Linked DNA regions of Homo sapiens: regions 1, 2 and 3 are each linked to region 4. The links come from fine-mapping of genetic effects on gene expression. A gene starts in region 4. Each other region holds a variant in brackets. All regions are shown on one strand. Distances are between the middles of the regions. Region 1 overlaps FOXK1 (forkhead box K1). Region 2 overlaps FOXK1 (forkhead box K1). Region 3 overlaps FOXK1 (forkhead box K1). Region 4 holds the start of FOXK1 (forkhead box K1).

The links. PIP is the estimated chance that this variant, and not a neighbour inherited with it, causes the effect.
Region 1: its variant is fine-mapped to the expression of FOXK1 in whole blood (TOPMed, PIP above 0.99).
Region 2: its variant is fine-mapped to the expression of FOXK1 in pancreas (GTEx, PIP 0.92).
Region 3: its variant is fine-mapped to the expression of FOXK1 in whole blood (INTERVAL, PIP 0.97).

The regions. Positions count from the first base shown.
Region 1 is chr7:4,747,569-4,752,568 of GRCh38, forward strand. All of the region lies in intron 2 of FOXK1 (forkhead box K1), which reads left to right. Among named protein-coding and RNA genes, the nearest start is that of AP5Z1, 26 kb to the right of the region's middle. RefSeq lists an enhancer at 2,276-2,775. The variant C/T (reference allele first, on the strand shown) is at 2,863.
Region 2 is chr7:4,754,443-4,759,442 of GRCh38, forward strand. It overlaps FOXK1 (forkhead box K1), which reads left to right. Exons shown (of 9, transcript NM_001037165.2): 3 at 17-173; 4 at 795-941; 5 at 2,552-2,745; 6 at 4,609-4,775; 7 at 4,869-5,000. Among named protein-coding and RNA genes, the nearest start is that of AP5Z1, 19 kb to the right of the region's middle. The variant C/T (reference allele first, on the strand shown) is at 2,271.
Region 3 is chr7:4,769,928-4,775,183 of GRCh38, forward strand. FOXK1 (forkhead box K1) reads left to right here. Exons shown (of 9, transcript NM_001037165.2): 9 at 1-1,515. Among named protein-coding and RNA genes, the nearest start is that of AP5Z1, 3.1 kb to the right of the region's middle. RefSeq lists enhancers at 4,438-5,114, 5,115-5,256, 5,165-5,214, 5,255-5,256. The variant T/A (reference allele first, on the strand shown) is at 2,794.
Region 4 is chr7:4,680,137-4,685,378 of GRCh38, forward strand. FOXK1 (forkhead box K1) reads left to right here and starts at 2,159. Exons shown (of 9, transcript NM_001037165.2): 1 at 2,159-2,732. The coding sequence starts at 2,173. RefSeq lists enhancers at 1,160-1,660, 1,862-2,156, 3,016-3,543 and silencers at 1,870-2,239, 2,390-2,459.

The DNA of each region.
Region 1 (5,000 bases), 67 kb after region 4:
TCTATTGCCCAGGCTGGAGTGCAGTGGCACAGTCACAGCTCACTGCAACCTCAACCTCCCGGGCTCAAGCGATCCTCCCACTGCAGCCTCCTGAGTAGCTAGGACTACAGGCACCCACCACCACACACACCCAGCTCATTTTTTATTTTCGTTGAGATGGTGTCTTGCCCAGGCTGGTCCTGAACTCCTGGCCTCAAGCAGTCTTCCCACCTTGACCTCCCAAAGTGCCAAGATTACAAGCCTGGGCCTGTTTTTGTTGTGGTTGTTGTTGCCTTTGTTGTTTTTGTTTTGTTTTGAAGCAGGGTCTTGTTCTGACACCCAGGCCGGAGTGCAGTGGTCCGGTCACGGCTCGCTGCAGCCTCGACCTCCGGGACTCAAGCGATCCTCCCACCTCAGCCGTGACTACAGGAGCAATCCACTAGTTAATTTTTAAAAATAGCTTCCCAGCATTTTACAATGTCGGATTTATCTTAAAGGAACACATTCTTTAAGATCATTCTAAGAAATTCGCCTCTGAAAATTTTCTTTCCCTATTTGTTTATTTTTCCTTTTTCAGATTACGAAGAGACTATCTATCTATCTATATGCATCTTACAAAATGCAAACATTTCAGAAAGTGAAAATTCCCCCACACAACGCTCCCCAGAGCTGAGCCCTTCTCTCTCACTTCTGTGTCTCTGAGTCGTATTCGTACGTGACTGTCTCTTGGTTTTTCCGTTTTAGATATTACACATGAGGTTCCTATATGGAAATTAAGGATTTAGCTTCCCCCCTCCCCATCCCAGTAAAGTTACATCATCATGTCTGGTTTACCTTGCATGAGCGTTTTCTGTATTAGAACTGTGTAGTGATTGTAGCGCTTAGCCATTTCCTTCCTTGTACTTTTGGCTTATTTCCGCCACACTCCCCCCGCTCTTGGGGTTAATAATGGCCTCTTCTCCCTTTACTGTGAAGGCCTTCCTCTGGGGCCCCTCTGACCATGGGATCATCTTCTCCACCATCCTGGGAATCCCCTCAGGAGGTGGTGGTGGAGAGAGGGCTGTTTCCTGATTCCCACGTCTTCCTCTTTCCTGATTTGTTCCTTTGTTTTACCAGAGTCCATCCCCCAGTCGCTTCCTGGGAAAGGGCACAGGAGACAGACTTTTCATTTATTCACTGATTTAAGAGACAAGGTCTCACTTTGTTGCCCAGGCTGGTACTTCTGGGCTCAAGCGAGCCTCCTGCCTCAGCCTCCCGAGTAGTAGGGACTACAGGTGTGCACCACCATGCCCGGCTAATTTTTGTATTTTTTGTAGAGGTGGGGTCTCCCCATGTTGCCCAGGCTGGTCTTGAACTCCTGTGCTCAAGTTATCTGCCCACCTCAGCCTCCCAAAGCGCTGGGATTACAGGTGTGAGCCACCTCGCCTGGACCCCCAGGTTCCTGTCCACGCTTCTGGGACTGGCTGTGCCTGGCGGGCCTCTGAGCTGAGTCTCTCATGCCTCTCCTTTCCTTTCTCTCTCTACTTTCTGAGGGATTTTCTCCAGTCTCTCCTTCCACCCTTTCTTGGATTTGTATTTCTCTTCTTTTGAATTCTTATTTTTTAATTTGAAGAGCGTGTTCTTGCTCTGCAGGTGTGCTTTGCATGCTGTTCTTACTGTCCTACAGAGACGGCATCGTTACCTCCCTAGGGACGGGAACCATGTTTCATCTCCTCCCAAGCTCCCGTAGGCTTCCCTGGGTCCCTCTTCTCTTCTGTTTTGCACCATGTTCCACCTGGTAGAAGCTTCCTCAAACCACAGATGTGCCTTGGCCGGCTGTTGTGTTTAACAGTGAGGTCCTAAAAACCCTCTTAGAGCGGCTGGTATTGGAGCAGGGGCTGGGGCAGGGACCCCAAGCGTCCTCCTCTGCAGGGAGGTTCCCCCAGGAGGCTTCAGGTGCCGCCTTGGGACGCAAAGGTCATCGCAGACCCCCGCAGCCTTCTCGCCCCTCCACTGCCCACAAGGCTCCGTCGCAGCTCCTTCCTCCAGCCCCTCCAGGCGGGTCCCTCTGTGTCTCTAGGGCTTCAGGAGGGATCAGGTCCCTTCTGACAGAGCACTGTCCTCCCTGGGCCTGCCGGAAGCGATAACTGTCCCGACCCTAGGCCTCTCAGGGTGGCCTTCTCAGCCTCAGAGCAGAGCCAAGGGCATTGAGGGTGGACTGGAAGGACCGCAGCCCTGTGCCCTGGGGAAGGCTTGTCTTAGGCTCTGGGGACGGAGCCCAGCTGGCGGCTCCAGAGGTGGCTTTAGGTCTGTTGTTGGATTTGCCTTTCTCAGCGTGACTTCTCATCATAACGTGACCCAGCGACCTGTGTGTCCCACAGCCCGTCCGTCCCTCTGCAGTCTCCCTGCACTGGCATGTCCTGGGTGGTCCCAGTGGCACCTTCTAGGCCCGGCCCCTGGATGCGGTGGAGGCTGCCCGGGGTGGGTCAGCATGGGGTTGTCCCTGTGAGCACAGCTCCGGGAGACCCGTACTCAGAATCCTCCAGCTCTCTCGCCTGAGGCGGAAATGTGACTTGGGAATTGTCCTCCATATAAAGGAAGCAAAATCAGGGCCTAGGGGTGAGCTGCTTACTGTGCTTCTTCCCTCTCTCAGCCTCCAATCGGGGGGCACAGGCGTTTGATTCCCGCGACGTCTGTGGGCTGTCACTGTCCAGCCTCTGCGTCCCACACCTGGGCAGCTAGGGACTGGGGGGGGCCTGACCGAGGCCTGGGGTACTTACCCCAGAAGGAGTGATTCCCTGTTTCCTGGAATTGAGCTGGTGGTCCCTGTCAGGGAGCAGTGGGGTCCCCTCAGCTTCCTGCTCTTTCTCATTCCCGCAGGAGGAAATGTGTGCACGTGTATGC[C/T]GTCGTTTTCAGCACTTTTTTTTTTTTTTTGAGACAGAATCTCGCTCTGTCGCCCAGGCTGGAGTGCAGTGGCACGATCTCTGCTCACTGCAAGCTCCGCCTCCCAGGTTCACGCCATTCTCCTGCCTCAGCCTCCCAAGTAGCTGGGACTACAAGTGCCCGCCACCACACCCAGCTAATTTTGTTTTCTGTATTTTTTAGTAGAGACAGGATTTCACCGTGTTAGCCAGGATGGTCTCGATCTCCTAACCTCGTCATCCACCCGCCTCGGTCTCCCATCTTTTTTTTTTTGAGACAGAGTTTCACTCTTGTTGTCCAGGCTGGAGTACAATGGCATAATCTCGGCTCACTGCAACCTCTGCCTCCCGGGTTCAAGCAATTCTCCTTCCTCAGCCTCCCGAGTAGCTGGGATTACAGGCATGCACCACCACGTCTGGCTGATTTTGCATTTTCAGTAGAGACGGGATTTCTCTAAATCGGGCAGGCTGGTCTCGAACTCCTGACCTTAGGTGATCTGCCCACCTCGGCCCCCTCAAAGTGCTGGGATTACAGGCGTGAGCCACCGTGCCTGGCCTTCAGCACTTTTTTTTTTTTTTTTTTTTGAGATGGAGTCTTGCTCTGTCGCCCAGGCTGGAGTGCAGTGGCGCAATCTCGACTCACTGCAAACTCCACCTCCCAGGTTCATGCCATTCTCCTGCCTCAGCCTCCAGAGTAGCTGGTACTACAGGCACCTGCCACCATGCCCGGCTAATTTTTTGTATTTTTTTTTTAGTAGAGACGGGGTTTCACTGTGTTAGCCAGGATGGTCTCGCTCTCCTGACCTCATGATCCACCCTCCTCGGGTAATCCCAAAAGCATTGGGATTACCAATCCCAAAGCACTGGGATTACAAGCGTGAGCCACCGTGCCCGGCCCAGCATTTTCTTTAGATTGCTAAGGGAATGTTTCCGTGGACTCCCAGCATCAGACATGGGATGTCTTGATTAGTTTTCCGGATGGCTCCAAGGCCTCTGGCTTTGGAGCTGGGTGTCCCATCCCACCCTGGCTGGGCGCCCTCAGACCTGTCTTCCCCCAGGGCACTTTACAGCTCTTAGCGGCTGTGAGGCTCGAGCAGCCTCTGCTTCCCGCCTCCGTCAGCTGCAGGCCTGGTATCGGGGGCCTTGGTATCAGGAGCCTGGTACCAGGCACAGCCCCGTGGCCGAGGCCCGCCTGCGGAGGACAGTTGAATGGGGCTTATTGAGAGACGGGCTGCTCCGAGGGCTGGAGGAGCCATGTGAACAAACACATGTGGTCCCTCAGCCCAGGTGGCTGGAAAACCTCAGAAGCTGCGCTGTCGTACCTGTCCCGGCTGGAGTGACACCAGGATCCGGCAGCCCAGGCCAGGTCCAGTGCTGGGGAAAGTGGCGGAGAAACCACCCTACTCTCTCGCCTGTGGGAGCCAGGCTTCGCCAACCTTTCTTATTTCCACTTGAAATCATTCTCTGGGGAATGACAACTTTTCCTGTGGGTTTTACTCCATGAGGTTTTTTGTTTGTTTTTTGAGATAAGGTCTCACTCTGTTGCCCAGGCTAGAGTGCAGTGGTGTGATCATAGCTCACTGCAGCCTCGACCTCCCAGGCTCAAGCCATCTTCCTGCCTCAGCCTCCTGAACAGCTGGAACTGCAGGTGTGCATTACCACGCCCAGCTAATTTTTAAAATGTTAAAACTTTGTTTATTTATGTATTTATTTATTTATTTTTAGAGACAGGGTCTTGCTCCGCCAGAGTGCAGTGGCACAATTATAGCTCACTGTAGCCTCAAACTCCTAGGCTCAAGCAGTCCTCCTGCCTCAGCCTCCTGAGTAGCTGAGACTACAGGTGCACACCACCACACCTGTCTAATGTTAATATTTTTGTAGAGATGGGGGTGTCACTATGTTGCCCAGGCTAGTTTCGACCATGTGGGCTCAAGCGATCCTCCTGCCTGGGCCTCCCAAATTGCTGGGCTTACAGGCATGAGCCACCGCACCCGGCAGACATGAATTTTCTATGATCTTCTGCAAAATAACTGCTGGGAACAGGAGCAGGTCCCTGCCACACGTGCTGGGCCATCACTGTTTGTTGTGGAGTGCTGGGGGGTGCCCCTCATTGGTCCTCAG
Region 2 (5,000 bases), 74 kb after region 4:
CCTTCTCTCTCCTCAGTGTCCCCAACTCCTGCCCAGCCAGTCCACGCGGTGCCGGCTCCTCCAGTTACCGCTTTGTGCAGAACGTGACCTCGGACCTGCAGCTGGCAGCAGAGTTTGCAGCAAAGGCCGCGTCGGAGCAGCAGGCAGACACGTCTGGAGGAGACAGCCCCAAGGTCTGAGCCCACCTGGCGCCGTGGTGCACCTGGTGACCCAGGATCGGGCCATAGTGACCCGGCGCGGGCGGCACAGACAGCCCAGGGCCTGCGGGCGTGTGCTCGAGGTGGTCTCAGCCCACAGGGAATGGAGCCGCAGCTGGCGGTAGAGCCGTCGGCCCTTTCTCGTTTTCGTGCCCAAATCATCCCCGTTGGTCATTTGCTGGTGACAGGGGTGGCGCCGTCACCGAGGGCCCCTCCCGCCACGCTCCTTGTTCATCTGCCGCTGGCAGCCCGGCGTCAAAGCCTTCATACAGCCCTTGAGCAGGATGGCGTTCTCCTTATAACTTTGTCTTAGTTCATTTTTGTCCAATAGCTGTTTTCAAATTGATTTCTGGAAGAGGTGAGAAATTTCAGAATTAAATTATAATAAAACCGAAGTTTTCCTTCCCATGAGGCAAAAATGGTTGTTCCTAGTTGAATGCAAGCACATTAATGGGATAGTTGGAGGGCACTGGGACGGGTGCCGGCAAGACGCGCACATTCTCGTGGGAAGGTTCCTCCCCATCAGCTGTGACGGGTGGGTGGGGTAGACTCAGGGACCTTGCTGGAGCTCATCCCGTGAGCCGTGTTTCTCCGCAGGATGAGTCAAAGCCGCCGTTCTCCTACGCGCAGCTGATCGTGCAGGCCATCTCCTCCGCCCAGGACCGGCAGCTGACCCTGAGCGGGATCTACGCCCACATCACCAAGCATTACCCCTACTACCGGACGGCCGACAAAGGCTGGCAGGTGAAGCCGAGTCCCCAGGGCCGGATCGCCTCTGAAGGCCCTTAGAACATGGAACTCACAGGCATATTGCTTCCCTTAAAACAGAAGAGGGCCAGTGAGGGGGCTCACGCCTGGAACCCTAGCATTTTGTGAGGCCGAGGCAGGAGGAGGATCAAGACCAGCCTGTGCAACATAGAGAGAACCTCTTTTCTACTAAAAATTAGCTGAGTGTGGTGGTGCACACCTGTGGTCGCAGCTACTCGGAGGCTGAGGTGGGAGGATCACTTGAGCCCAGGAGGTGGAGGCTGCAGTGAGCTATGATCACACCACTGCACTCCAGCCTGGGAGACAGAGAAAGACCCTGTGTCTACAAAGAAAAAAAATATCTTTTTAACTAAGAAGATAAATATAAAAGAGGGATGTTTTCACGAATGGCATATGGTACATCTGAAAGGCATTAGCGCTGTGATACCATTGTGTCTAAATACTCTTTTTTATTAGTTTCCTTCTTCTGAGCCCCAGAACTGAGAAGATGGATCTACACCTTGTTAGATTTTTGTGCTTGCTGTGCCTCACAATCCCACGTTAAGTTGGAAAAATGTACCATATACTGTTATTCAAACAATCCACATGTCTGAATTGTGGATGGCATTTTAAGAGCTTTGTCCACACCAGCCATGACTGATGCATGTTGCATTTGCCTGTATTTTCTCCAATGTCAGTGTAGCGCATCCACTAGCTTTGGTTTTTTGTTTGTTTGTTTGTTTTTTGAGACAGGATCTCGCTCTGCCATCCCGGCTGGAGTGTGGTGGCGCGATCTCAGCTCACTGCAACCTTCGCCTCCCAGGTTCAAGCGATTCTTCTGCTTCAGCCTCCCAAGTAGCTGGGGCTACAGGTGCCCACCACCACACCTGGCTATTTTTTGTATTTTTAGTAGAGATGGGGTTTCACCATGTTGCCCAGGCTGGTCTCAAACTCCTGACCTCAGGTAATCCTGCCAGCCTCGGCTTCCCAAAGTGCTGGGATTACAGGCGTGAGCCACTGTGCCCGGCCAAGACCCAGTGTTTTCTTTCTCCCAGATGTGCTCCTAGACCAGGATCTGTCTTTCTGTTTCACTTTTTCTGTAAAGAATGGTAATGGCAGCCAGGCACAGTAGCTCATGCCTGTAATCCCAGCACTTTGGGAGGCCGAGGTGGAAGGATTGGTTAAGCCCAAGAGTGTGAGACCCCATCTCAACTAAAAATACAAAAAAATCAACCCAGCATGGTGGCCCACGCCCATAGTCCCAGCTAGTCAGGAGGCTGAGGCAGGAGAATCCCTTGAACCCGGGAGGCGGAACTTGCAGTGAGC[C/T]GAGATCGTGCCACTGCACTCCATCCTGGGCGACAGAATGAGACTCCGTCAAAAAAAAAAAAAAGGTAAAATGGTAATTATGCGGTGTCAAATTTTGATAGGAATGACCTGCCCTGTGCCTCGGTGCTGCTCCCGTGAGGCCCAGCCAGCACAGCACCAAGGGCTCTGCACAGAGGGACGGCCTCCCCTCACCCTGGTCCCGCATCTGCTGCAGATTTGAGGTGGGTGGGACTCATTTTCTGATTTGCTGGTGATGGGTGAATATCTCTGCTTCCCTGCAGAATTCTATCCGGCACAACCTCTCTTTGAACCGTTACTTTATCAAAGTCCCACGTTCCCAGGAGGAGCCTGGGAAGGGGTCCTTTTGGCGAATAGACCCTGCCTCTGAAGCCAAGCTCGTGGAACAGGCATTCCGGAAACGGAGGCAGAGGGGTGTCTCCTGCTTCCGCACCCCCTTCGGGCCTCTGTCCTCAAGGTAAAGTTCTCTGAGCGCCCGTCCTCCAGCTGTTAGGAAAGCTGAGCTGCCCTGGAGTTTAGAGATACGTGGCGCAGTCAGCCCTCCGGATCTGTGGGCTCAGGCTCAGTGTACGGGCATGCAACTGATCACAGGTCAAAAATATTCCAAAAAAAAGAAGGCCGGCGCGGTGGCTCACGCCTGTAATCCCAGCACTCTGGGAGGCCGAGGCAAGTGGATCACCTGAGGTCAGGGGTTTGAGACCAGCCTAGCCAACATGGTGAAACCCCTGCCTCTACTAAAAAAATTCAAAATTAGTCGGGCATGGTGGCAGGTGCCTGTAATTCCAGCTACTGGGGAGGCTGAGGTAGGAGAATCGCTTGAATCTCGGAGGCAGAAGTTGCAGTGAGCCGAGATTGTATGTACCACTGCACTGCAGCCTGGGCGACAAGAGCAAAACTCCGTCTCAAAAAAAAAAAAAAAAAAAAAAAAAAAAAAGTAATACAAATGAAACAATACACACTACAACAGCTGTTTACATAGCAGGTACATTTGTTAGGGATTATAAGTAACCTGGCGATGATTTAAAGCTTACAGGAGGATGTGCACAGGTTGTATGCAAATGCGACACCATTTCTATGAGGAACTTGGGTAAGCATCTGCAGATTTGGTACCCACAACCCCCGCCCCTCAAGTACCGAGGGGTGACTGCTGGTTTCGGCACTTAAAGACTGCACCATTTTCTGTTTTTGTTTTGAGAGAATATCTCAGGACCAAGAACTCCTAAAATAGTAAGGTTACTAAGTAAGCCACTGACTGTTGTATTAAAAATAAGATTTTAGTTCTTAGAAGTGGAAATGTGTGTAGCAATAGGAACGGTTCCTAAGGCCAAGAATAAATGGATTGCGGTTGTGGGTCTTTTGGTAGCACTAAGCTTTCTGTTGCAGTGTGTGAGAGGACCCGGGGAGAGCCCAATCTTCGAAGGGACAGATGAGGGGTATGACCTGGGGAGCCCACAACCGCCTTTGCTTTTCGCAGATGCTGGGAACGCAGCTCTGCTGCCGGCGGGGTGGACAGACCCTCCCCCAGCCATTGCTGCCCACCTGCTGCGTCAGGGCCTCCCCTGCCCAGCTCAGTCTTGGCCAAGCCCAGTCTGGAGGAGCATGCACCGCCTGTGAGCGGTCTGGGCAGCGCTTCCCAGGTTGCCCATCAGATGAGCCCGTCCCAGGTGTCGAGGAGGAGATCTCCTGAGCGGCAGTCTCGGAAATCCTTCCCCGTGGAAGGACACGTTAACCTCTCGTGCTTCCCATTTCAAAATTCTGTTTCCAACACGATTTGATGAAAGATTGAAATATCTGAAAATTCATTTCGAGCACAGGGTCTGGCATTGTGATTCTCAGGTGAACTGGGCGTATGGTTGAGGTAGGACTTCAAAAAAGTGTTCGAACGTCATTTGCAGCATTTAAACTGAGCTCCAAATGACGTTCAAACACCCCTCTCGGGTAGAGTTTTCATGGTGGAACGGTTGCGCCCACCAAACAGAAGCTTATGTTTTTGGCACAGAAGGCCTGGGCCATTTTCATGGACACCTGGCTGGACCTCGGTGGAAGTGAACTCCGTAGGTTGTTGCGTTCACTGCAGCACCTCACATGATACCGTCCCCTCTCATGGAACGGAGCCTCCCCCATGCAGCCCCCACTCAAATGGAGTTTTAAAGGCTGGGTTCAGGTTACGGGGGCGTTTCTCACCGTCTGAATGCGGAGGACAGAGACGAGCTCCAGGGAGCGTGGGCGGGTGACGGCGCTGAGATGCGTGATGTCTCGGAAACGTCCTCGCATCCCTCAGCGCGGGCGCTGACTGCCGCGGCCCTTGCCTGTCTTCCAGGAGCGCTCCAGCTTCGCCCACACACCCCGGGCTGATGTCCCCTCGCTCCGGCGGCCTGCAGACCCCAGAGTGCCTGTCTCGGGAGGGCTCCCCCATTCCACACGACCCTGAGTTTGGGTCCAAGTTAGCTTCTGTCCCAGAGTACCGGTATTCCCAAAGCGCACCCGGTAAGGAGCGGGCGGCCCTCTTGCGGGGCGGGGCGGGGCGGGACTCGTGGGGGTGCGGGAGGGGTCACCGTCCGCTCTCCGCCCTCCGTGCAGGCTCCCCCGTCAGCGCCCAGCCAGTGATCATGGCCGTGCCTCCCCGACCGTCCAGCCTCGTGGCCAAGCCCGTGGCCTACATGCCCGCCTCCATCGTAACCTCACAGCAGCCCGCGGGCCACGCCATCCACG
Region 3 (5,256 bases), 90 kb after region 4:
AAAGCTGGGGCCAGGGGAAGCGAAGTGGCTTCAATCCGGGCTGACAGCCAAGAAGAGTTTTCCTCCCTTCGGTGACAGGGCCTGCCCCTCCGAGTCTAGAGGTAAAAGCAGCTTCTAGAACTGGCCCCTAAGTCTCCAAATGTGTTGGCTAAGCTGAAATGAGAGACTCTGAATTAGAGTTTTTGTTTGTTTGTTTGTTCTCTGCATGAAGTTCACAGGCCTGTATGGATGTTAAATTGTGTCTATAGCCTCTAAATCTCCAGGTTAACTGGTCCAGATTTTTTTTTTTTAATCAGTAACAATGGGAATTTAAAATCAAATATTTGGCCAGGTGCGGTGGCTCATGCCCGTAATCCCAGCACTTTGGGAGGCCGAGGCAGGCGCATCACCTGAGGAGTTTGAGACCAGCCTGACCAACATGGTGAAATCCTGTCTCTACTAAAAATACAAAAAATTAGCCAGGCGTGGTGGCGTGTGCCTGTAATCCCAGCTACCAGGGAGGCTGAGGCATGAGAATCGCTTGAACCTGGGAGATGGAGGTTGCAGTGAGCCGAGATCATGCCACTGCACTCCAGCCTGGGCAACAGAGGGAGACTCTGTCTCAAAAATAATAATCAAATCAAGTATTTTAAGTTTGGCTCTTCTTTTTTTCAAGAAAGGCTTTTTGGATACCTAGAATACCTTCATGTATGTGGCTTGATTTCTGTTTCAGGAAAAGGGGGGCGGGAGGAGAGACAACAGCCGTGTTCCAGAGTCTGTCCTGAGATGTCGCTGAGTCCAGACACTTGGGCTGCACGTGCCCTGCAGATGACAAAGGCCGGCAGCTCAGCACACGTGCAGGAGGGGTTAAAGCCAATATTGAGTTTTTGTTCTTGTTGTTTTAATCTGAACGATTATTCTCCTGTAAAAATAATTTGGGAGGGGCGGGTGTTGTTCGGTGTGTGTGTGTGTGTGTGTGTGTGTGTGTGTGTGTGTATTTTTTTTTTTACAGTGGCGCCTGTCTAAAGTATTTTTCACAACATGTTTGATAATCAGTGCTTTAAAAAGCAGCAGTGTCCTATGAAGTGGAAATGTCAGTTCTAGAGCATTGGATGTGAAGTTCTGGTCATGTCACCTTGCGTGTCTCACCCTGGAGGAGTGAAGGTGGGCGCCCGGCGGGGGGGTGTGGCTGCACCCCAGCACCGGGAGGGGGCACGCACGACACCAGAGGAAGGGACAGCCCCACCCATGTCAACAGCAGGCAACCTGTGTTTTCATTTCAAGTGGGATACAGTATTTTTTTAATAAGGAGCCATACTTTTTTTTAAGAGTTTGAGATCTGAATGTGATTTCTAATTGTATCAGACGTTAATGTTTTAAAGCTATAACAAAGTTTAAAATTTCTACTTTTTGTTTTTCATTTATTTTAACTGTTCTTTTATCTATTAAATTGTTGTATGTGGATGGGGAAGTTTTGTTTCTCCTCTTAGCATTTGTTTCTATAACCAGAAATAAAATTCTATATTAAAGAAATGACCCTGCGGCTCCGGTGTGGTCCTTCTGCGCAGGTGGCTACTGAAGGTGGCGGACGGACAGACGGCCTGGACACACAGACACCAGGCCCCTGGACACATAGGCTCCCGACCCCCTGGATACACAAACACCTGACCCCCTGGACACACAGGCTCCTGACCCCCGGACACACAGACCCCTGAGCCCCTAGACATACAGGCACCTGGCCCCCTGGACACAGAGGCTCCCGACCCCCTAGACATACAGGCTCCCGGCCCCCTGGACACACAGGCCCCTGACCCCCTGGACACACAGGCCCCTGACCCCCTGGACACACAGACCCCTGACCCCTGGACACACAGACCCCTGAGCCCCTGGACATACAGGCTCCCGGCCCCCTAGACACACAGGCTCCCGACCCCCTGGACACACAGACCCCTGACCCCTGGACACACAGACCCCTGAGCCCCTGGACATACAGGCTCCCGGCCCCCTGGACACACAGGCACTGCGCCCCCCTGCTCCAGAGGCTGAAGGGCGGCTGCTGATAAGGGAAGTCGCCCATAGGTCCCTGGTGTCCCGTTCCTGGCTCACACAGGAGATGCTTCTGCAGGTGCCTGTGGCTCCTGGAGTCAGTGACCCCCACCCACTGAGAGTGCTCTAAGCGAGGATGTTTGCAGCTCCAGGAATGTGAAGACAACGTGTGTCTCCCCTCAGACATGGCAAAGGCAGAAACCAGCTGAGCCAACCCCCTGCCCCTGGCACACGCCCACATCCTGGCTGGGGGGCACTTGCAGGTACTCGTTGCTGCCCCAGTGGCTCCTGGGCAACTGTGGGTCCTTCCTGCTGGCCCTTGGCTAGATGAGAATTTCTACCCATGTCCAAGATGGGTAGAAATGTACGTGGGTAGAAATTCTCTCAGGCCTTACTTATTGTAGGTGTGGGGCCTGGGGGGTGGGGATGGCATTGACTTTGGAACTACACAGACCTGGGTTCAAGTTCCTACTGTGTCCTTACCAGCTGTGGGACTTCAGCTTGCAATGCGCCCCACTTCTTCACATGCAGCACAGGCACCCCCACCCCACAGGCCTGGCGCCCCGAAGCTCAGCTGCGATGCCATCAGTCACTGTCTCTTCTGAGAGTCCCCCAGACTTATGAGACCCTTGGGTGTGTCTGTGTGACTGCCTCCGACAGACTTGACAGTGGTGCATGCTTGTCACATGTCTCTCTTCTGTCAAGGTTCTGTAGTGTTTGCATGTGACTCCCTCAGTTCAATAACTTGCATTTTTCCGATGGCACAGT[T/A]ACCCACCATTGCAGGTAAGGTTTCACTGCTTCTCTGTCTTCCTTCAAGTTACTCCATTTCCATTGTAAGAGGTTAACATAACTTTAACAGATTAGTTCTAGTTTAAGATGTCAGCCCAGGCTGGGCGCGGTGGCTCACGCCTGTAATCCCAGCACTTTGGGAGGCCAAGGCGGGTGGATCATTTGAGGTCAGCAGTTCAAGACCAGCCTGGACAACATGGTAAAACCCCGTCTCTACTAAAAAAAATACAAAAAATTAACTAGGCATGGTGGCTTGCACCTGTAATCCCAGTTACCTGGGAGGCTGAGGCAGGAGAACTGCTTGAACCCAGGAGGTGGACGTTGCAGTGAGCTGAGATCACGCCACTGCACTCCAGCCTGGGGGACACAGCAAGACTCAGTCTCAAAAAAAAAAAAAAAGAAAAAAAAGAAAAACATTTTAGCCCAATAGCAAACATGAGTGAGAAGCGTATGTAGGCTTCCTCCAGGGATCTGCGTTGGCTAATTATTAATTGCATCTTTCCTTTTTAAGATGTTGTCTTTGTGTTTGTTTGTTTGCTTGCTTGTTTAGAGACAGGGTCTTGCCATGTTGCCCAGGCTGGTCTTGAACTGGGCTCAAGCGATCCTCCTGCCTCGACCTCCCAGTGTTTGGATTACAGGTGTGAGCCACCGTGCCTGGCCTTTTTTGCTTTTGATTAGCACAACCATTTTTCACTAGTGAGACCTTAAAATAATATTTTACACTAATGTAAATATTTTGTAAGAAACAAGTCAAATATTACCCCTGGTAAAATTGCTTAAGGTCGTGTCTGTGTGAAGAGAGAGAGGGAGAGAGAGATTGAGATTCCTGGCACACAGTTGGAATCTCAGTTAAAGTTAGCTTCCCTGTGAACCTGGTATCTATACAACAAAGAGGGGTGCATCTCTCAGAACCCCAGAAGACATACAATTGTGCACTGCAGCTCTATTCGTTATTGTCAAAATCTGGAAACCGACCAAATATTCATGGACGAACAAGAAAAGCTAAGTACGGTACGATTCCATTTGCATGAAGTATAAAAAGACGCAAAACTAATCTCTGGTGATAAGAGAGACTAGCAGTTACTTGTGGGGGAAGGGAGTGGGCGTTGACTGGGAGGGGGCCACAGCGGGGAACCTCTGGGGAGCTGGAAATGGTCTAGGTCTTGAACTCAAACCATGGCAGGAACATTTACACCACAGAAATTATCAAACACAAATCAACCCCCGGCTCCCCACCGTCGCCAATGGAGCCGAGGCTTAAGACATTTGCAAATTTACCACCGATTTCTAGAAATGTAAATAGTGGAGTTCATTTAAGATTTGTGCGCTTTGGTGTGGACGTTTTACCCTAGTAAACGTTAAACACTGGCAGTAGGCTTTCCATAGACTACCTGTCACCAGCTTTCCTTTGCCAGTCTTCAACCTGCGGCTCCAGGGGCACCCGCCGCACTCCACCGACTCCCATCCACCGCTCACCATCCACCGATTCCCATCTCTTCATTCTCTGCACCAGGTGCCCTCAGACATCACTGGGCGCCCTAGGGCATCTCAAAGCCATGTTTGGAACTCCTGCAGGAAGCCCTCCCTCCTCCTCCTCCTTCCTTCCATCCAGGGGTCTTCTCGGGGCTTATCCCTTCAAGGCCTAACCTTGACCCACCCTATCTACGCAACATTGATTCCCACCCCTACCCTATTCCCCAGAACCTTCAGCAGTGCCTAGCGCAGCTAGGACTCAATCATCGCTTGTCCACTTAATGAATGACTCTTGGCACAAATTTCCTCGTCCTTTTCTGCCCCAGACAGACACCCCACAAACATGAAGTTACCCTTGATTTTTCCACTTTCTTCCTCCTGCCTGCAAATTCCTCAATCACAGGTGGTGCAAATCCTACCTCTAAATGGTACTGAATCTGCCTACTTTCGGGGCAACCTCCCTTACCTGGACCACAACTGCACCAGCCTCCTTTCTCCCTCAGGAGCTTCCCAATCCATTATCTCCCCTGCGGCCAGAGATCAGTTTCCTCCTGGGGTGCATTTAAGCCATAGGAAGCAGATCGCTACCCTAGGCCCGTCCCTCCCCACCCCTTGGTCTGGACACCCTCTGGGCTCATCTTAGGCCGCAGTCGCCGAAGCCTTCCTCCTCCGGTTGGACCCCCAACCAGGTCAGGCTGTCATAGCGTTTATCATGACGCTGGCGTGTCGCCCTGTGTCCCTCGGCCGTCTGCAGGATGGCAAACTTATGGCCAGGGCCCAGCACATTTGGGCACCCAACACATCCGTTAGAATGAACAGAAACTTCCCCTCTCCGAGCCTGTGGCCTCATCTGTAAAACAGAGATCGCGAGATCCCATGAATACCGTGGGGATTGAATAAGGGATTTTTTCGTTTCAAGCAGCAGGAACAGCGCGGGATGGGTGCTCAATAAATGGGAGCTCAAAAAAT
Region 4 (5,242 bases):
GGCCAGGTGAGGCGGCTCCCGCCTGCAGCCCCAGCACTTTAGGAGGTCGAGGCAGGTGGATCACCTGAGGTCAGGAGTTTGAGACCAGCTTCACCAACATGGTTGAAACCCCGTCTCTACTAAAAATACAAAAATTAGCTGGGTGTGGTGGCAGATGCCTGTAATCCCAGCGACTTGGGAGGCTGAGGCAGGAGAATCGGTTGCAGTGAGCCGAGACTGCACCATTACACTCCAGCCTGGGTGACAGATTAAGACTCTGCCTTAAAAAAAAAAAAAATTAAAAATTAGTCGGGCATGGTGGCTCATAGTCCCAGCTACTTGGGAGGGTGAGGTGGGAAAATCACCTGAGCCCTGAAGGTTGAGGCTGCAGTGAGCTATGATTGTACCACTGCACTCCAGCCTGGGTGACAGAGTGAGACCCTGTCTCAAAAGAAAAAGACAAGAAAGAGAGAGAAGGAAGGAAGGGAGGGAGGGAGGGAAAGAAAGGAAGGAAGGAAGGAAGGAAGGAAGGAAGGAAGGAAGGAAGGAAGGAAGGAAGGCAGGCAGGCGGCCGGGCACGGTGGCTCCCGCCTGTAATCCCAGGACTTTGGGAGGCTGAGGCGGGCAGATCACCTGAGGTCGGGTTTTCAGGACTAGTCTGACCAACACGGAGAAACCCCATCTCTACTAAAAAAATACAAAATGAGCCGGGCCTGGTGGTACATGACTGTAATCCCAGCTACTTGGGAGGCTGAGGCAGGAGAATTGCTTGAATCCAGGGGGTGGAGGTTGCGTTGAGTCGAGATTGCGCCATTGCACTACAGCCTGGGCAACAAGAGCGAAACTCCGTCTCAAAAAAAAAAAAAAAGAAGGAAGGAAGGAAGGGAAGAAAGAAAGGAAGGAAGGAAGGAAAGGAGGAAGGAAGGAAGGAAGGAAAGGAAGGAAGGAAATGGAGGGAGGAAGGGAGGGAGGGAAGGAAGGAAAGGAAGGAAGGAAGGAAAGGAAAGGAAGGAAGGGAAGGAAAGGAAGGAAGGGAAGGGAAGGAAGGAGAGGAAGGGAAGGGAGGGAGGAAGGGAAGGAAGGAAGGAAAGAAGGGAGGGAGGGAAGGAAGGAAGGAAAGGAAGGAAGGAAAGGAAAGGAAGGAAGGAAAGGGAGGGAGGAAGGAAGAGAGGGAGGGAAGGAAGGAAGGAAAGGAAGGAAGGGAAGGGAAAGAAGGAGAGGAAGGGAAGGGAGGGAGGAAGGGAAGGAAGGAAGGAAGGAAAGAAGGGAGGGAAGGAAGGAATGAAGGGAAGGGAAGGAATGAAGGGAAGGAAGGGAAGGAAGGAAGGAAGGAAAGAAGGAAGGAAGGATGGATCAGGGATTCAGGGATGGATCTCAAGTGGTCTTCAGTTACAGTAGAGTATGATGACCTTTAATCTGAGGGCTTAAGAATGATCAGGCCTGGCACTGTGGCTCACACGGGTAATCCCAGTGCTTTGGGAGGTCGAGATAGATAGATCACTTGAGACCAGGAGTTTGAGACCAGCCTGGCCAACATAGCAAGACCCTGTCTCTATAAGAAGTAAAAAAATTAGCTGGGCGTGGTGGCACTTGTGAGGCAGAGGCAGGAGGGTGACTTGGGCACAGGAGGTGGAAGCTGCAGTGAGCTATGATTTTGCCACCGCACTGCAGCCTGGGCGACAGAGCGAGGTTAGAATATAAACATATGTATTGTATATAATACACATATATTTTATCTTCTGTCTATCTTACACTTTAGGGTTGGGGGCCTGGAGTGTCTGGGGCGGGGAGACTGCTGAGGTCATCCGTCCCTTTCTCCAATGACCCAGGCTCAAAACTTTGTGGCTGGGCATTTCAGGGGTCCCCTCTTCCCCCTGGATGGAGGAAAGGGCGCCCGCCGCCTGCAGCCCCGCGGGGAGGGGACGAGGTGCGCCGGGCCCAGCTCTCCCGGGGGCCCGCCGGCCCTCCCGGCACAGGCCTCGCCCCCAGCCCCGCGCTGGCGCGCGCCACGTGGGCTACGCTGGGCGGGACCGGCGGGCGGGCGAGGCGAGGCGCACGGTGGGCTGGGAGGCTCCGCTCCGCGCCGGCGCGATCTGGCCCGGGTTTCCGCGCCCGCCCAGCGCCCCGACCTCCCCGCCCCCCGCGCCGCCGCTGCAGCCGCCGCCGCCGGAGGCCGCTCGGAGCCGCGCGAACATGGCCGAAGTCGGCGAGGACAGCGGCGCCCGCGCCCTGCTCGCGCTGCGCTCGGCGCCCTGCAGCCCAGTGCTGTGCGCCGCAGCCGCCGCCGCCGCCTTCCCCGCGGCCGCACCCCCGCCGGCCCCCGCGCAGCCCCAGCCTCCGCCCGGGCCGCCGCCGCCGCCGCCACCGCCGCTGCCTCCGGGCGCGATCGCGGGCGCGGGCTCCTCCGGGGGCTCCTCCGGGGTATCCGGGGACTCCGCGGTCGCGGGCGCGGCGCCGGCCCTGGTGGCCGCGGCGGCCGCCTCGGTACGGCAGAGCCCGGGGCCGGCGCTGGCGCGGCTGGAGGGCCGCGAGTTCGAGTTCCTCATGCGCCAGCCCAGCGTCACCATCGGCCGCAACTCGTCGCAGGGCTCGGTGGACTTGAGCATGGGCCTGTCCAGCTTCATCTCGCGGCGCCACCTGCAGCTCAGCTTCCAGGAGCCGCACTTCTACCTGCGCTGCCTCGGCAAGAACGGCGTCTTCGTGGACGGGGCCTTCCAGAGACGCGGCGCGCCCGCCCTGCAGCTGCCCAAGCAGTGAGTGGCCCCGCGACCCCCGCCGCCCGCACCCGGGGCTCGCCCACGACCTCGATCTCTGAGGCCCGGGCCTGGGGATCCCCCTCCAGCTTCCTCGGCCTCGACCCCCACCCCCCGGCCCACCCCCGGTAACCCCCGACCGGCCTGGACTCCGGGGTCAACCCCGACCCCCGCCTCCTGGCTCCCTAGGATCACCCCGACCCCGATCCTGGAGGCTCCAGCCTGAGGATCTCCTCCACTTTCCCCGGTCTGGATACCCCGTCGCCCCCGACCCCCACCGGCCTGGACTCTGGGGTCAGCCCTGACCCACACCTTGCGGCTCCTGGGGTCACCCCTGACCTCATCTCCCACCGGCCTGGGCTCCTGGAGCCACCCATACCCCAAGCCCATCTGGCTGGGCCTCTTAGACCCCTGACCCAGATCCCTGCTGCTCCCCAGCTCCCATCGGCCTGGACTCCGGGGTCATTCTGAACTCCCACTGGCCTGGATCCCTGGGGTCATCTACGTCCCTACCCTGCCTAAACACGCAAGGTTAACCGCGACCCCCACTTCCTAGGCCCCCCCGGAGTCACCCCTGACCGCTAACCCCACAAGCCTGGGCTCGCAGGGCCACTCCCACCCCAGCTCCACCCAGCTGGGTTACTGAGGTCACCTTGACCCCAGTCCCTGCTGCCTGGGCCTGGGGATCACCCTCAACCCTTCCAGGTCACCCTGGACCCCCACCAGCTTGGACTCCAGGGTCACCCCAGCCTGACCTGGTTCTCAGGACCACCCCCGACCCCCACCAGCCAGGGCCTCAAGTCACCCCAGTGCCTGATGCCTGCCGTCCTGGACCCCAGTGGCTACCCCTGACCCTGTCTGGTCTGGACCCTTGGGCCACCCCCACCCCATCCAGTCTGGGTCCTGGGGGACCCCAACACACTCACCCAGGACAGTGGGAGGGTGTTGCTCCGGGAAGTGCGAGGTCCCTAGGAGTGTGGGCTGTGCTGAAGGAGCAGAGGCCTGGCGGGGAGGGGCGAGGACAGGAAGCCTGTGCCTCAGTTTACATCCCCAACTAGTGCTCCTTGGATGGAGTAGCGGGACCCCAAGATCAAATTAGATTCCCCCGGGCCCGAGGTCACCAGGGCAGAGAGACCCAGCTGGGCCTGGACGGCTGCCCAGGCCTGTCGGTGCCTTTGGTAGCATCCCGTGGTCACCTCCCGCCCATTCCGGTTCCCTCCTTTCCAGCTCCACTGCCCTCCGCACCCTCTGCTCTGCCCCGGACCTCAAGGTCTGTTGATCAGGAGAAAGCCTGTTTAATTACTCATTTCCTCTGGAGCCACTTTCTTTTTCTATTTAGTGATTGCCTCTAACTCATCACCAGTGTTTATATTTCTTCAATGTGGTTCTTGTTCAGGGTTGTCTGTCTAATTACTCCCTTTTATAAACGCCTTGCGTCTGGGGAATTTTTGCTGGGGTAATTCCCAGGGCCCAAAGTTTGTGTCTGTAAACTTCTCCCCTTTTTTAGTCTTGGCATGTTTGGTTACAGATATCGCATTGAATAATTTAAAATGCAACATCAACAATGACTCACTCCCCCTTGGGGCGTGAGAGGGGAAGTATACCTTTTTCTAACCGTGCTGAAAGGTGTGCATTTTGGTAAAATCAGAACTCAGGAGATAACAAATTTGTTCTTTGCCTCAGATATTAGTGTGTTCTCTCTCTTCCATAACCAATACACTCTCTCCGTTTGGGGCCATTAAATGCATTTCCTGGCCACTCTCCCCTCCAGTAAGAAAATGACAGGTAGGCTCCCCAGGCCCCCCTTAGAGGCCTGCTTTACAGACGCACCTTTATATAACTCAGGTTCACTAAGTACTTCCATTAAAGTCTTGTTTTCAGGTTTCCTGCCCCTGCCGTGGAAACAGGTGCACTCCTGAGTCAGGCCCAGCTTTAGTGAATCTTGAAGGAGGCTTTCACGGTATTTTTTTTTTGTAATTCAAGGGGAAAAAATTTCAACCTCAGATCGTCTACGAATAGGCCAGTAGCAAGCCTGTTATTTATGAAATGTTATCGGTGTATACAGTCCTTGCACATTTATGCTCCAGGGAGCTCGTGTTCTCGGTGGGTGCATTACCAGGCATTGTGGTGGGGCTGTCAGGCTACACAGATGCCCGCCCGCTGACTTGGTGCATTAGATGTGCGTGAAGTGCTTGGCCCACTGCGCCTGTCTGTTTTTATTTGACTTCACCTGCACATGTGAGCAATATCTATGTAGGCAGCAATGTAAAATTTACAAGAACAAAGCAAATGTGCAGAAGGAAAAACATTAAGTGGATGTCCATGTCCACCCTCCTAGAAAAGAGCTATTTGCTTTTTTTTTTTTTTTTTTTTCTGTCATGGAGTCTCGCTCTGTTGTCCAGACTGGAGTGCAGTGGCTCACTGCAAACTCTACCTCCCGGGTTCAAGAGATTCTCCTGCCTCAGCCTCCTGAGTGGCTGGGACTACAGGCGCACAACACCACGCCCAGC